3 separate regions of the Homo sapiens genome follow, and regions 1 and 3 are each reported to be linked to region 2. Evidence: microRNA targets listed by miRTarBase, many of them from high-throughput screens and not tested one by one. Region 2 holds a microRNA gene; each other region holds the end of a gene's coding sequence.
What was found. The annotated mature microRNA hsa-miR-30a-5p reads UGUAAACAUCCUCGACUGGAAG and lies in region 2 at 1,176-1,197, shown strand. An mRNA with a match to its seed (bases 2 to 7 or 8) in the 3' UTR can be bound and repressed. Matches are read on the target gene's strand: a 7mer-m8 pairs with bases 2 to 8, a 7mer-A1 pairs with bases 2 to 7 and ends in A, and an 8mer does both.

Region 1 (4,063 bases), not on the chromosome of region 2:
ATACCATCTAGGTTTGTGTAAGTACTCCTGTGATGTTTTCACGAGGGCAAAATTGCCTGACAGTAAGTTCTGAGAAATGCGTCTCCATCGCTAAGCAACACAACTGTGGTTGTTATTCTATTTGCAGAATTCTCCTGCACTCAGAAATATTCTGTAATTATAGTAATTTACAGTAACTGTTATTGTAATCTACTTTATAATTTTTGCTACATTTTATTCTGTAAATGCATTGCTCAGGGTTTTTTTTTTTTCTTTTTCTCTTTTTGATACCAGGAGTCTCCCAGTTGCACGAAAAGGTGCTGTGTCTAGTGCTCTCTACATGGCATGGTTAGAAGCTCTATCTAAGGACCTACCACCAATCCTCCTAGTTCGTGGGAATCATCAGAGTGTCCTTACCTTCTATTCATAAATGTTCTATACAGTGGACAGCCCTCCAGAATGGTACTTCAGTGCCTAGTGTAGTAACTGAAATCTTCAATGACACATTAACATCACAATGGCGAATGGTGACTTTTCTTTCACGATTTCATTAATTTGAAAGCACACAGGAAAGTTGCTCCATTGATAACGTGTATGGAGACTTCGGTTTTAGTCAATTCCATATCTCAATCTTAATGGTGATTCTTCTCTGTTGAACTGAAGTTTGTGAGAGTAGTTTTCCTTTGCTACTTGAATAGCAATAAAAGCGTGTTAACTTTTTGATTGATGAAAGAAGTACAAAAAGCCTTTAGCCTTGAGGTGCCTTCTGAAATTAACCAAATTTCATCCATATATCCTCTTTTATAAACTTATAGAATGTCAAACTTTGCCTTCAACTGTTTTTATTTCTAGTCTCTTCCACTTTAAAACAAAATGAACACTGCTTGTCTTCTTCCATTGACCATTTAGTGTTGAGTACTGTATGTGTTTTGTTAATTCTATAAAGGTATCTGTTAGATATTAAAGGTGAGAATTAGGGCAGGTTAATCAAAAATGGGGAAGGGGAAATGGTAACCAAAAAGTAACCCCATGGTAAGGTTTATATGAGTATATGTGAATATAGAGCTAGGAAAAAAAGCCCCCCCAAATACCTTTTTAACCCCTCTGATTGGCTATTATTACTATATTTATTATTATTTATTGAAACCTTAGGGAAGATTGAAGATTCATCCCATACTTCTATATACCATGCTTAAAAATCACGTCATTCTTTAAACAAAAATACTCAAGATCATTTATATTTATTTGGAGAGAAAACTGTCCTAATTTAGAATTTCCCTCAAATCTGAGGGACTTTTAAGAAATGCTAACAGATTTTTCTGGAGGAAATTTAGACAAAACAATGTCATTTAGTAGAATATTTCAGTATTTAAGTGGAATTTCAGTATACTGTACTATCCTTTATAAGTCATTAAAATAATGTTTCATCAAATGGTTAAATGGACCACTGGTTTCTTAGAGAAATGTTTTTAGGCTTAATTCATTCAATTGTCAAGTACACTTAGTCTTAATACACTCAGGTTTGAACAGATTATTCTGAATATTAAAATTTAATCCATTCTTAATATTTTAAAACTTTTGTTAAGAAAAACTGCCAGTTTGTGCTTTTGAAATGTCTGTTTTGACATCATAGTCTAGTAAAATTTTGACAGTGCATATGTACTGTTACTAAAAGCTTTATATGAAATTATTAATGTGAAGTTTTTCATTTATAATTCAAGGAAGGATTTCCTGAAAACATTTCAAGGGATTTATGTCTACATATTTGTGTGTGTGTGTGTATATATATGTAATATGCATACACAGATGCATATGTGTATATATAATGAAATTTATGTTGCTGGTATTTTGCATTTTAAAGTGATCAAGATTCATTAGGCAAACTTTGGTTTAAGTAAACATATGTTCAAAATCAGATTAACAGATACAGGTTTCATAGAGAACAAAGGTGATCATTTGAAGGGCATGCTGTAATTTCACACAATTTTCCAGTTCAAAAATGGAGAATACTTCGCCTAAAATACTGTTAAGTGGGTTAATTGATACAAGTTTCTGTGGTGGAAAATTTATGCAGGTTTTCACGAATCCTTTTTTTTTTTTTTTTTTTTTTTTGAGACGGAGTCTTGCTCTGTTGCCACGCTGGAATGCAGTAACGTGATCTTGGCTCACTGCGACCTCCACCTCCCCAGTTCAAGCGATTCTCCTGCCTCAGCCTCCCTAGTAGCTGGGACTACGGGTGCACGCCACCATGCCCAGCTAATTTTTGTATTTTGAGTAGAGACAGGGTTTCACCGTGTTGGCTAGGATGGTGTCTATCTCTTGACCTTGTGATCCACCCGCCTCAGCCTCCCAGAGTGCTGGGATTACAGGTGCGAGCCACTGCGCCTGGCTGGTTTTCATGAATCTTGATAGACATCTATAACGTTATTATTTTCAGTGGTGTGCAGCATTTTTGCTTCATGAGTATGACCTAGGTATAGAGATCTGATAACTTGAATTCAGAATATTAAGAAAATGAAGTAACTGATTTTCTAAAAAAAAAAAAAAAAAAAATTTCTACATTATAACTCACAGCATTGTTCCATTGCAGGTTTTGCAATGTTTGGGGGTAAAGACAGTAGAAATATTATTCAGTAAACAATAATGTGTGAACTTTTAAGATGGATAATAGGGCATGGACTGAGTGCTGCTATCTTGAAATGTGCACAGGTACACTTACCTTTTTTTTTTTTTTTTTTAAGTTTTTCCCATTCAGGAAAACAACATTGTGATCTGTACTACAGGAACCAAATGTCATGCGTCATACATGTGGGTATAAAGTACATAAAATATATCTAACTATTCATAATGTGGGGTGGGTAATACTGTCTGTGAAATAATGTAAGAAGCTTTTCACTTAAAAAAAATGCATTACTTTCACTTAACACTAGACACCAGGTCGAAAATTTTCAAGGTTATAGTACTTATTTCAACAATTCTTAGAGATGCTAGCTAGTGTTGAAGCTAAAAATAGCTTTATTTATGCTGAATTGTGATTTTTTTATGCCAAATTTTTTTTAGTTCTAATCATTGATGATAGCTTGGAAATAAATAATTATGCCATGGCATTTGACAGTTCATTATTCCTATAAGAATTAAATTGAGTTTAGAGAGAATGGTGGTGTTGAGCTGATTATTAACAGTTACTGAAATCAAATATTTATTTGTTACATTATTCCATTTGTATTTTAGGTTTCCTTTTACATTCTTTTTATATGCATTCTGACATTACATATTTTTTAAGACTATGGAAATAATTTAAAGATTTAAGCTCTGGTGGATGATTATCTGCTAAGTAAGTCTGAAAATGTAATATTTTGATAATACTGTAATATACCTGTCACACAAATGCTTTTCTAATGTTTTAACCTTGAGTATTGCAGTTGCTGCTTTGTACAGAGGTTACTGCAATAAAGGAAGTGGATTCATTAAACCTATTTAATGTCCATTCTTATATCTGTTTAATAAGTCTTTGCCAGCTTTGTGGTTTTATCTCATTTCGATAACTATTGCTTCATTCATTTCTGAATTTTTAAAATAGCTTTTACCTTAATATTCACGCCCTGGAAAAGTCGTTCACTATTCTTAAACCTTTGCAATAATCACTGTTGATGCTCACAGTATGACTGAACCATCTGAGATGCAGCTCATTATGGTATTTTTTTAAGTGACCTAGCTTTTCTAATTCTGCTTTATCTTTGGGCCAGATCTCTCATTTGTGAATGAGGAAACTGGAAGATTAAAAGCGATTCATAGTCCCTGAATATAATCTGATTCTTTCCTTCCAAAGATTTTTGTCTAAGCTCATTTAGAGTTTTAGAAAGCATTTTCATTTTCTCATTTGAATATGACTGTAGGTGTGTATATATGCAGGACAGCTATTTCTTTTACTCTTGAGAAAGCAGCTTGGAGCAGTTTAGGGAGTTTTCCAAGGTCATGGGGTAAATCAAGGAAGGATATTGGTCTAGAGCCCAGGTCTTTTATCCCCAGGAATTTCTTTATTATGCATTCACTGCTGGCTGATCCATAAGATAGATGGCTGGGA
Region 2 (4,067 bases):
CTGGTTCCCTAGGAAGTTTTAATAGTTCAAAGTCCTTAGTTAATAAAGAAAAAGGCCACAACATAATTCAGCTTGTTTTCACCTGCTGACTCAAAGATTAACTTTTTTAACCTTAATGGGATAGAGTTACCCTTTGCTTTGAGAAAGTAATTTATGGAGTTCTTCATATTTGTTAGTTTCAGTAAACATGATGCTTTTTGTGTGGATTTTATTTTTGTTTCGGGTTTGAGATCACAAACTACTAAGACTTACACAATTTAAGAACCTTACGGTAACTTCATCTAAAAACAAATCTCAGGGAAAGGCACACCCACTTTTCTGTATCAACTTAATCTTTCACTAGATTCAGAATGGTTTTGAATTACTTCAGGAAAGTAGTGACTGATAGAGCTTAACCTTCAGTTTTCCTCATTTATTTTCATAAGAGAATGGGAGTGGAATTCAAAACATTCAAATTTGGAGTTAATGTGCGTCACTGTTGTGAGTGATAGGTTCTGTGTTTTTCCAGTGGGAAACTTTGATCCACATACTGATATATGCCTGTGTTATACCTCGTTATTCTTTTCTGTTTTTCTCCTGATTGTTGCTTACTCTTTCAAAAATCAGCTGACTGTACAAGTCCTCTCTGGGAGCAGACTTTAGAGCAAAAGTGATCTATAAAAGCAGCATGTAAGTCTTTTTTTTTTTTGTCAGAGTTTATAACTTTCCAAGTAGACCTTTTATATTTTCACGGTAGTCTAAGTTCACTCAACTGCAGTATTTGATGTTAAATGTACGCTTTACGCTGTTAAGATAATTTAGTTTCTGTGTTTGGTCACTTTTGCTTAAAGGATTGTAATTACATAATGCATGTTGAAATCATATTAAGTAACCTGGCCACTTGCCTATTTACTTCTTGTGGCTAACAATAATGAATGAAACCATTTATATATGTTGTTTTAGTATATCACAAAATTTTATAGAAACTAGAAGCTCGGTGATGAATAATAGACATCCATGAGCCTTCTTATTTGTTTTGAATTTGAGACATTTTCTAGAATATTGCTGTTTGAATGAGGCTTCAGTACTTTACAGAATCGTTGCCTGCACATCTTGGAAACACTTGCTGGGATTACTTCTTCAGGTTAACCCAACAGAAGGCTAAAGAAGGTATATTGCTGTTGACAGTGAGCGACTGTAAACATCCTCGACTGGAAGCTGTGAAGCCACAGATGGGCTTTCAGTCGGATGTTTGCAGCTGCCTACTGCCTCGGACTTCAAGGGGCTACTTTAGGAGCAATTATCTTGTTTACTAAAACTGAATACCTTGCTATCTCTTTGATACATTTTTACAAAGCTGAATTAAAATGGTATAAATTAAATCACTTTAAAACCATGTCTGTACATTTTTAGAGGGCTTCAGCAGGGCATTGAGGAGGTGCTCTGTGTATGCATAGAATTTGCAATATCAAAAAGAAAGTATTCGTAAGAGAAATGAGGAAATGTGTTACAGTATTTTTATTTTTTTTAAAAGCGTAGTAGGGCAATATTTCCCAGAAAAATCTATGAAGTGATTTGTTTTGTCCTGCCCTTTCTGCAGTTTCAAAATAGGTGTTTTTTAGACCCATTCACAAAAAAAAAATCCATTAATGAAACCACAATTATTTGGGGGAAAAAAGTAAGATGAAGGGTTAGTTATTTTCACATTACTTGGATTAAACCCCTTTTATTTCCTTATAGGCTTAGTGTTTAAGTAATAAAGTAGCAGCTCTCAGCTTAATAAAGTGTCTAAAACAAACAAATACTGATTCAACTAACTCTATTATTTGAAAAACCTATTCTTGTTTCAGATGATTAGAATAGTATTTTAGGAATTTGTGGATACTGTTTCCATTTGGTTGAACTTTTAACTTAGCTTTATGCAATAACTCATATCTCTTAAAAATAATAAATACATCAAATTCTATCCTAAATATATGAAGACAATTTTAAGATTCAGAATCCTGTAGAAGATTTCTGTGATGGACATAATTTCTAATTTTCCTTTTTTGTAAATGCGTATTTTTCTTATGGCGGATATTTTTAATATTATACACTTAAATAGAAATATTTAAGTGTATAAGAGAAATATTTAAGTGTATAATAGAAATATTAAGGATACACTTATATAGAAACTAGACACTTTAAAAAGATATGAAAGTGATATCTTTTGTCCTCTAAAACACAGTATTTTATAAATATATAGTGTTTCCATTAATGTAAAAGAGTTTCTTTTCCCTGTTTAATACCCATTGATGATGATGATAAAGAAGTGATACTAAAACAGTATGATCATACCACTATTTAAAATAGTAGCATTTCTTCTAATACCTGGGATGGAGAGAAATATGTGTTAGAAATGTCTTTAAGTTTCCCTCATACATAAAGCTATCAAAACTCTATTAGTCATGCTGGGCCATGAGAGGTTCATCAACTGCCACTGAAATGCAAGGGGCTTGGAGAGGCCTCTGCCAGGCCCTGGGTCTGGAACTGAGAATGTGGTCTATTTTAATTGGTAAGCTGAAAACCCCTGGAGCAAATAACTCGGCTGTTTTTCTGGGGTCACCCGACCGTATTTCCTAGGTAAATGACTATAGGTTTGAAGAAATGGTTAAACTTTTCCTAAATCTTTGACCTTCACTTTCTTTAGGTTCTCTTCCTATGTTATTTTATATCCTCTTCCTTACCTTACTGCCCCTAAATTTTCCATTTTTCATTTTTATCTGTTCATTTTGTTCATGTAAATAATTAGTTATGGGAACTTTTTAATTTGTAAAAATTACAGCATTTTTAATTATTTTTAAATCAACAAATACAAACCTCCATAAGCCATTCCGGGTAGTTTCAAAATTAATACCTAGTATTTCTTATGTCTTGTGCCCCACATTTCCACAGTAATAATGTAAACTACTATTTTAAAGTAACATCAACAGTCCAGGCACGGTGGCTTACGCCTGTAATCCCAGCACTTTAGGAGGCTGAGGCAGGTGGATCACTTGAGGTCAGGAGTTTGAGATCAATCTGAACAACATGGTGAAACCCTGTCTCCATTAAAAATACAAAAATTAGCTGGGTGTGGTGGCACGTGCCTGTAATCCCAGCTACTGAGGTGGCTGAGAATTGCTTGAACCTGAGAGGGAGAGGTTGTGGTGAGCCAAAATGGTGCCACTGAACTCCAGCCTGGGCGACAGAGCGAGCCTACCATCTCAAAAAAAATATATCTATATATATATATAGATATACATATAAATAAATAAAATAACATCAACAGTGTGTTATTCATAATTGAAATAAGATCTGGATGCAATTTTTTATTTTACAAAAAAAATAACTTCTAAAGTTTACAGTATTATGTTTCTACCACTACGTGGACAGAGTTACCATGCATGTGCTTAGGTAAGATAAACTAATATTTAACATAAATTAGAAACCCTTACTAATTGCTTTCATGTGTTTTTTTTCTTACTATAATTTTTAAAATTTCACATATCAGCATAATAAAATATCTATAAACTAAAACATAAAATTCTTAAAATGGACTGTAGTAAGTCAGTTACTGAAAATAAAACACTGTCAAAATGTGTTAGTTAAATGTAATGTGAGTGTTGCTATAAAGTTAGTAATGTTTAAAAAATAGCACCACACTGAGTAATCATCAAAAGTATTATACATTTAGTTTTTATTCATGATTTGCCAAAATAAAAATTGGCACATGCTTGAAAGGGAGATTTCTAAAGGAAGTTAAGAGCTTCTGAAAGTGTCAGTGGTGAATGATTTAAGTGATACTTATTTTTCCTGACCTTAAAACTCTGATTTGAACTTGCACTCCATTTTACAATGATGTTGTCTATAAATATTACACATGTATGAAGCCTTTCCTCTACTACAGAATAACTAAAACCAGACCAGAGGACTGTGGAGGCAAGGGAAATGCATTTGAAGGCCGTCTGCATGGGAATTAGTTACCTAGACCTGAGAAACCCCTTTCTATTTAGATTCCTCTCAGAATTGCTCTGTTTTCTTTTACTAGAATTTTAGCTAAACATTAC
Region 3 (4,063 bases), not on the chromosome of region 2:
CAGGCAGGGCGGAATGCCAGGAAGGGGTGGAGAGGGAATGGGAGCCAGAGGTCCTGGAAGGGATGGTTTCATGACAAAAGGGGCTTGTTCTGGGGAGTAACAGTACCTGGTGCTGGGGCTGTGCAGAGAGGCCTTGGCTGTGCAGCAGAAGCTGTGTTTTGCTTCTCTCTGGGACTGTCTCTATGCCTCCTACACAGGAGGTTTGAACTCAGGCTCTTTGAGGCCCCTTCCCGATCTGACACCCCCTAATCTTTGTAATTCTCCCCGACGTCTGACACACTGTGGTTTCCAGAATACAGTCGTGCGCCTCAGCTGGTTTGAGCTGCACAATAACGCCCTATGGTGGCAGGTGCAGGAGTGATCATCCCTGAGGCACAGACGAGGAGATGGAGGCTCAGGAATGGGTGGTGACCAGGGCTTCTCTCCAGCCGCGGGGGCCACCAGGGACTGGGGCCTGACCTGATTTTCCCCTCATCCCCCCAGGAGCCGGGCTGGGTCTCGGAAGCGGCCGCTGACCCTGCTCCAGCGGGCGGGGCTGCTGCTACTCTTGGGACTGCTGGGCTTCCTGGCCCTCCTTGCCCTCATGTCTCGCCTAGGCCGGGCCGCAGCTGACAGCGATCCCAACCTGGACCCACTCATGAACCCTCACATCCGCGTGGGCCCCTCCTGAGCCCCCTTGCTTGTGGCTAGGCCAGCCTAGGATGTGGGTTCTGTGGAGGAGAGGCGGGGTAATGGGGAGGCTGAGGGCACCTCTTCACTGCCCCTCTCCCTCAAGCCTAAGACACTAAGACCCCAGACCCAAAGCCAAGTCCACCAGAGTGGCTGCAGGCCAGGCCTGGAGTCCCCGTGGGTCAAGCATTTGTCTTGACTTGCTTTCCTCCCGGGTCTCCAGCCTCCGACCCCTCGCCCCATGAAGGAGCTGGCAGGTGGAAATAAACAACAACTTTATTAAAACACCCGAGGCAGCCTTTTGCTTCCCCCTCCTTAGCCCTGTTCCGACTCCCCAGGCCTCAGTGGTGCTCCTCCCGGTACTCGATGGCCAGAAACTCCAAGGACAGGCGGTTGAAGAACATGGCTCCGTTGAGCACTGGGCGGGGGACAGAGCCCCCCATGAGCCCCAGTACCCTTCCCTGGCTACTCCTTGCCACATCTCAGGGTTCCAAAGCTCCCCGCTCCCTCTTGCACCCTCCCACTCCTGCCACTCACTCAGGATGGTCAGGGCGGAGAAGCAGACGTACTTGTTTTCTGTCATCTCAGCATAGAGTGACCCCATGGCAGCCCAGCAGATGCTGATCACCTGGGAGAACTGTAGGCCCATCCAGTGGGAGAGTGGCCCCCTCGCACAACAGTGGGGTTTCCATCAGCCCCTCGGGTCTCCCACAGCCAGCCCTTGCGTCCCTGCCCTGAGCCTACCATCAGGACGACCGTGTAGTGAAAGCTCATGTGGTCATAGTGGTAGGTGATGCAGAAGTTGTGCACGTCTCTGATGAAGATGCCCAGGTGTAAGAAGAAGAGCATCAGCGCAGCCGTGGTGAGCATCATGCCTTTTGGGAAGAAGAACGTGGCGATGCGGTCTTGCAGCCACATCTTGCCCGCAGTGTAGATGCAAGTCAGACTTGAGAGCTGGAGCAAGCAGGCCCTGCCCAGGAAAAGCAGCAGAGTCTCTGGTTCTAAAGTGCCTGGTATGGAATAGCAGTGGGATTCTAGAACCAGGAGGACAGTGGAGGGGACAAGATTCTAGAACACAGGCTGATTCCAGCCAACACAGGAGTGCCTCACGGGTGGTAGGGGTGCTTTGAATTGTGAGATCAGTGGGGGCCCATGGCAATGGCGAAGGGGCAGCAGCCCTAGTTATCCCATACTCACTCTAGACGCTTTTATGCATGTCTCAAGTTTCCCAAAACGGAGGCAGTGTGAACACAGTCTACAGATGAAGAACTGGGGCTCAGAAAAGTTGAGGGGCGTGGTCTAGATTTACAGCAAGTCTTAGGCAGATGAGAGATGAGGACCCAGCTGCATAGCTGGAAGGCATTCCCAGGTGAGGGGAGGCCTGTATTTGCTCTACCCTCTGGTGGAGAGGAATTACGAGAAGGGAAGGATCAACAGATTCTTCAGAGCTGTCCCGGGACCTTCCCCGTGCCCTTCCCAGGTGTGGCCCAGAAGGCACCTGGCTTTTCCATTCTCTCCCAAGATGTTCTTACAGGACCTGATGCTGGTCAGCTTTCTGCTCCGCCACCTTCAGGTGCTTGGAGCATTTTCACCTCTGTCAGTCTAAGAGTCCCATGAGACAGCTGGGGCTGGTGGCATAAGTCCTATTTGACACTTGAGTCTGAGGCAGAGGGAGGATGGTCTTCCTCAAGCTGTTATAGCCAGTGAGGGAGAGAGTCAATACTGAAACGAAGATCCGATACTACCTGAGGCTGTGCTGAGTGAGCAGGGTCACATGCAAGCCAGGAGGAAGAAATCTCCTCCATGCATGTGAGAGATGAGAACTAGGCTGGGTGCGGTAGCTCACACCTGCAACCCCAGCACTTTCAGAGGCCCAGGTGGGAGGACTGTCTTGGGCCAGGAGTTCAAGACCAGCTTGGGAGACAGCAAGACCCCATCTCTCTCTTTTTTGAGATGTAGTTTCACTCTTGTTGCCCAGGCTGGAGTGCGATGGCGCGATCTCGGCTCACCGCAACCTCCGCCTCCTGGATTCAAGCGATTCTCCTACCTCAGCCTCCCAAGTAGGATTACAGGCATGTGCCACCACGCACAGCTAATTTTGTATTTTTAGTAGAGACAGGGTTTCTCCATGTTGGTCAGGCTGGTCTTGAACTCCCAACCTCAGGTGATCCGCCTGCCTTGGCCTCCCAAAGTGCTGGGATTACAGGTGTGAGCCACCGCTCCTGGCCAGCAAGACCCCATCTCTAAAAAAAAAAAAAAAAAAATTTGCTGAGTGTGGTGGTGTGTGCCTTTAGTCCCAGCTACTCAGGAGGCTGAGATGGGAGGATTGCTGGACCCCAGGAGTCCCAGGCTGCAGTGAACTATGATCATGCCACTGTACTCCAAGCTGGGTGACAGAGAAAAAAAGAAAAGAAAAGAAAAAGGTGAGAACTCCAGGGCCGTCAACAAAATATGCCAATAAAACAGCCAGAAATGGTGTGGAGTGACATGAAAGCTCCCAGGGATTGAAGCAGGAGAAGAGGAGGGAGGAGGAGAGGACTTGATTTCGAACTCAGCCACCCCACTGCCTCCTGCCCAACTGTTTGCCCCAAAAGTTAGGTCCCAGGTCAGCCCAAGACCCACAGGCTGCCTCCCAGCAGTGGGATTAGAGCCTGCACCCACCATCTGTGCTTGCTGCCCAGTCTCCAGACAAGCACAATAGTTCTTCAGAGCCCCATCCTAACCACATGAAAGGGGTAATGCCCCAAGGCCCAGCTGTGGTCCCACTGTTGAAACAATTGTTTGGACCTCAGTCCTCATTTGAATACAAATGAACTTTTATACATTAAAGTTCCTAGCTCCTAATTTTATTTTATTTTTGAGACAGAGTCTCACTCTATCGCGCAGACTGGAGTGCAGTGGCATGATCTCGGCCCACTGCAACCTCCGCCTCCCGGGTTCAAGTGATTCTCATGCCTCAGTCTCCCAAGTAGCCAGGATTACAGGCGCCTGCCACCATACCCAGCTAATTTTTGTATTTTCAGTAGACATGGTATTTCACTATGTTGGCCAGGCTGCTCTTGAACTCCTGACCTCAGGTGATCCACTCTCTTTGGCCTCCCAAAGTACTGGGATTAGAGGTGTGAGCCACTGTGCCTACCCCTAGCTCCTAATTTTTAAAAATTATATACATGTAATATATGAATATGGGCTGGGTGCGGTGGCTCACACCTGTAATCCCAGCACTTTGGGAGGCTGAGGCAGGCAAATGACCTGAGGACGGGAGTTTGAGACCAGTCTGAACAACATGGAGAAACCCTGTCTCTACTAAAAATATAAAATTAAGCTGGGCGCAGTGGCTCACGCTTGTAATCCCAGCACTTTGGGAGGCTGAGGCGGGCGGATCACGAGGTTG

Region 1: the mRNA of SLC12A2 is a reported target of hsa-miR-30a-5p. The part of its 3' UTR that is shown has no 7-base or 8-base seed match.
Region 3: miRTarBase lists ZFPL1 as a target of hsa-miR-30a-5p. The part of its 3' UTR that is shown has no 7-base or 8-base seed match.

What each region holds. Positions count from the first base shown.
Region 1 is chr5:128,186,223-128,190,285 of GRCh38, forward strand. It overlaps SLC12A2 (solute carrier family 12 member 2), which reads left to right. Exons shown (of 27, transcript NM_001046.3): 27 at 274-3,455. The coding sequence ends at 409. Among named protein-coding and RNA genes, the nearest start is that of SLC12A2, 100 kb to the left of the region's middle.
Region 2 is chr6:71,400,725-71,404,791 of GRCh38, reverse strand. MIR30A (microRNA 30a) reads left to right here and starts at 1,171; the gene lies at 1,171-1,241. RefSeq lists an enhancer at 2,175-2,703.
Region 3 is chr11:65,087,445-65,091,507 of GRCh38, forward strand. It overlaps ZFPL1 (zinc finger protein like 1), which reads left to right. Exons shown (of 8, transcript NM_006782.4): 8 at 484-954. The coding sequence ends at 670. CATSPERH (catsper channel auxiliary subunit eta) reads right to left here and starts at 1,666. Exons shown (of 3, transcript NM_001282448.2): 1 at 1,414-1,666; 2 at 1,207-1,306; 3 at 932-1,087. The coding sequence starts at 1,587. The coding sequence ends at 1,011. RefSeq lists a silencer at 2,452-2,624.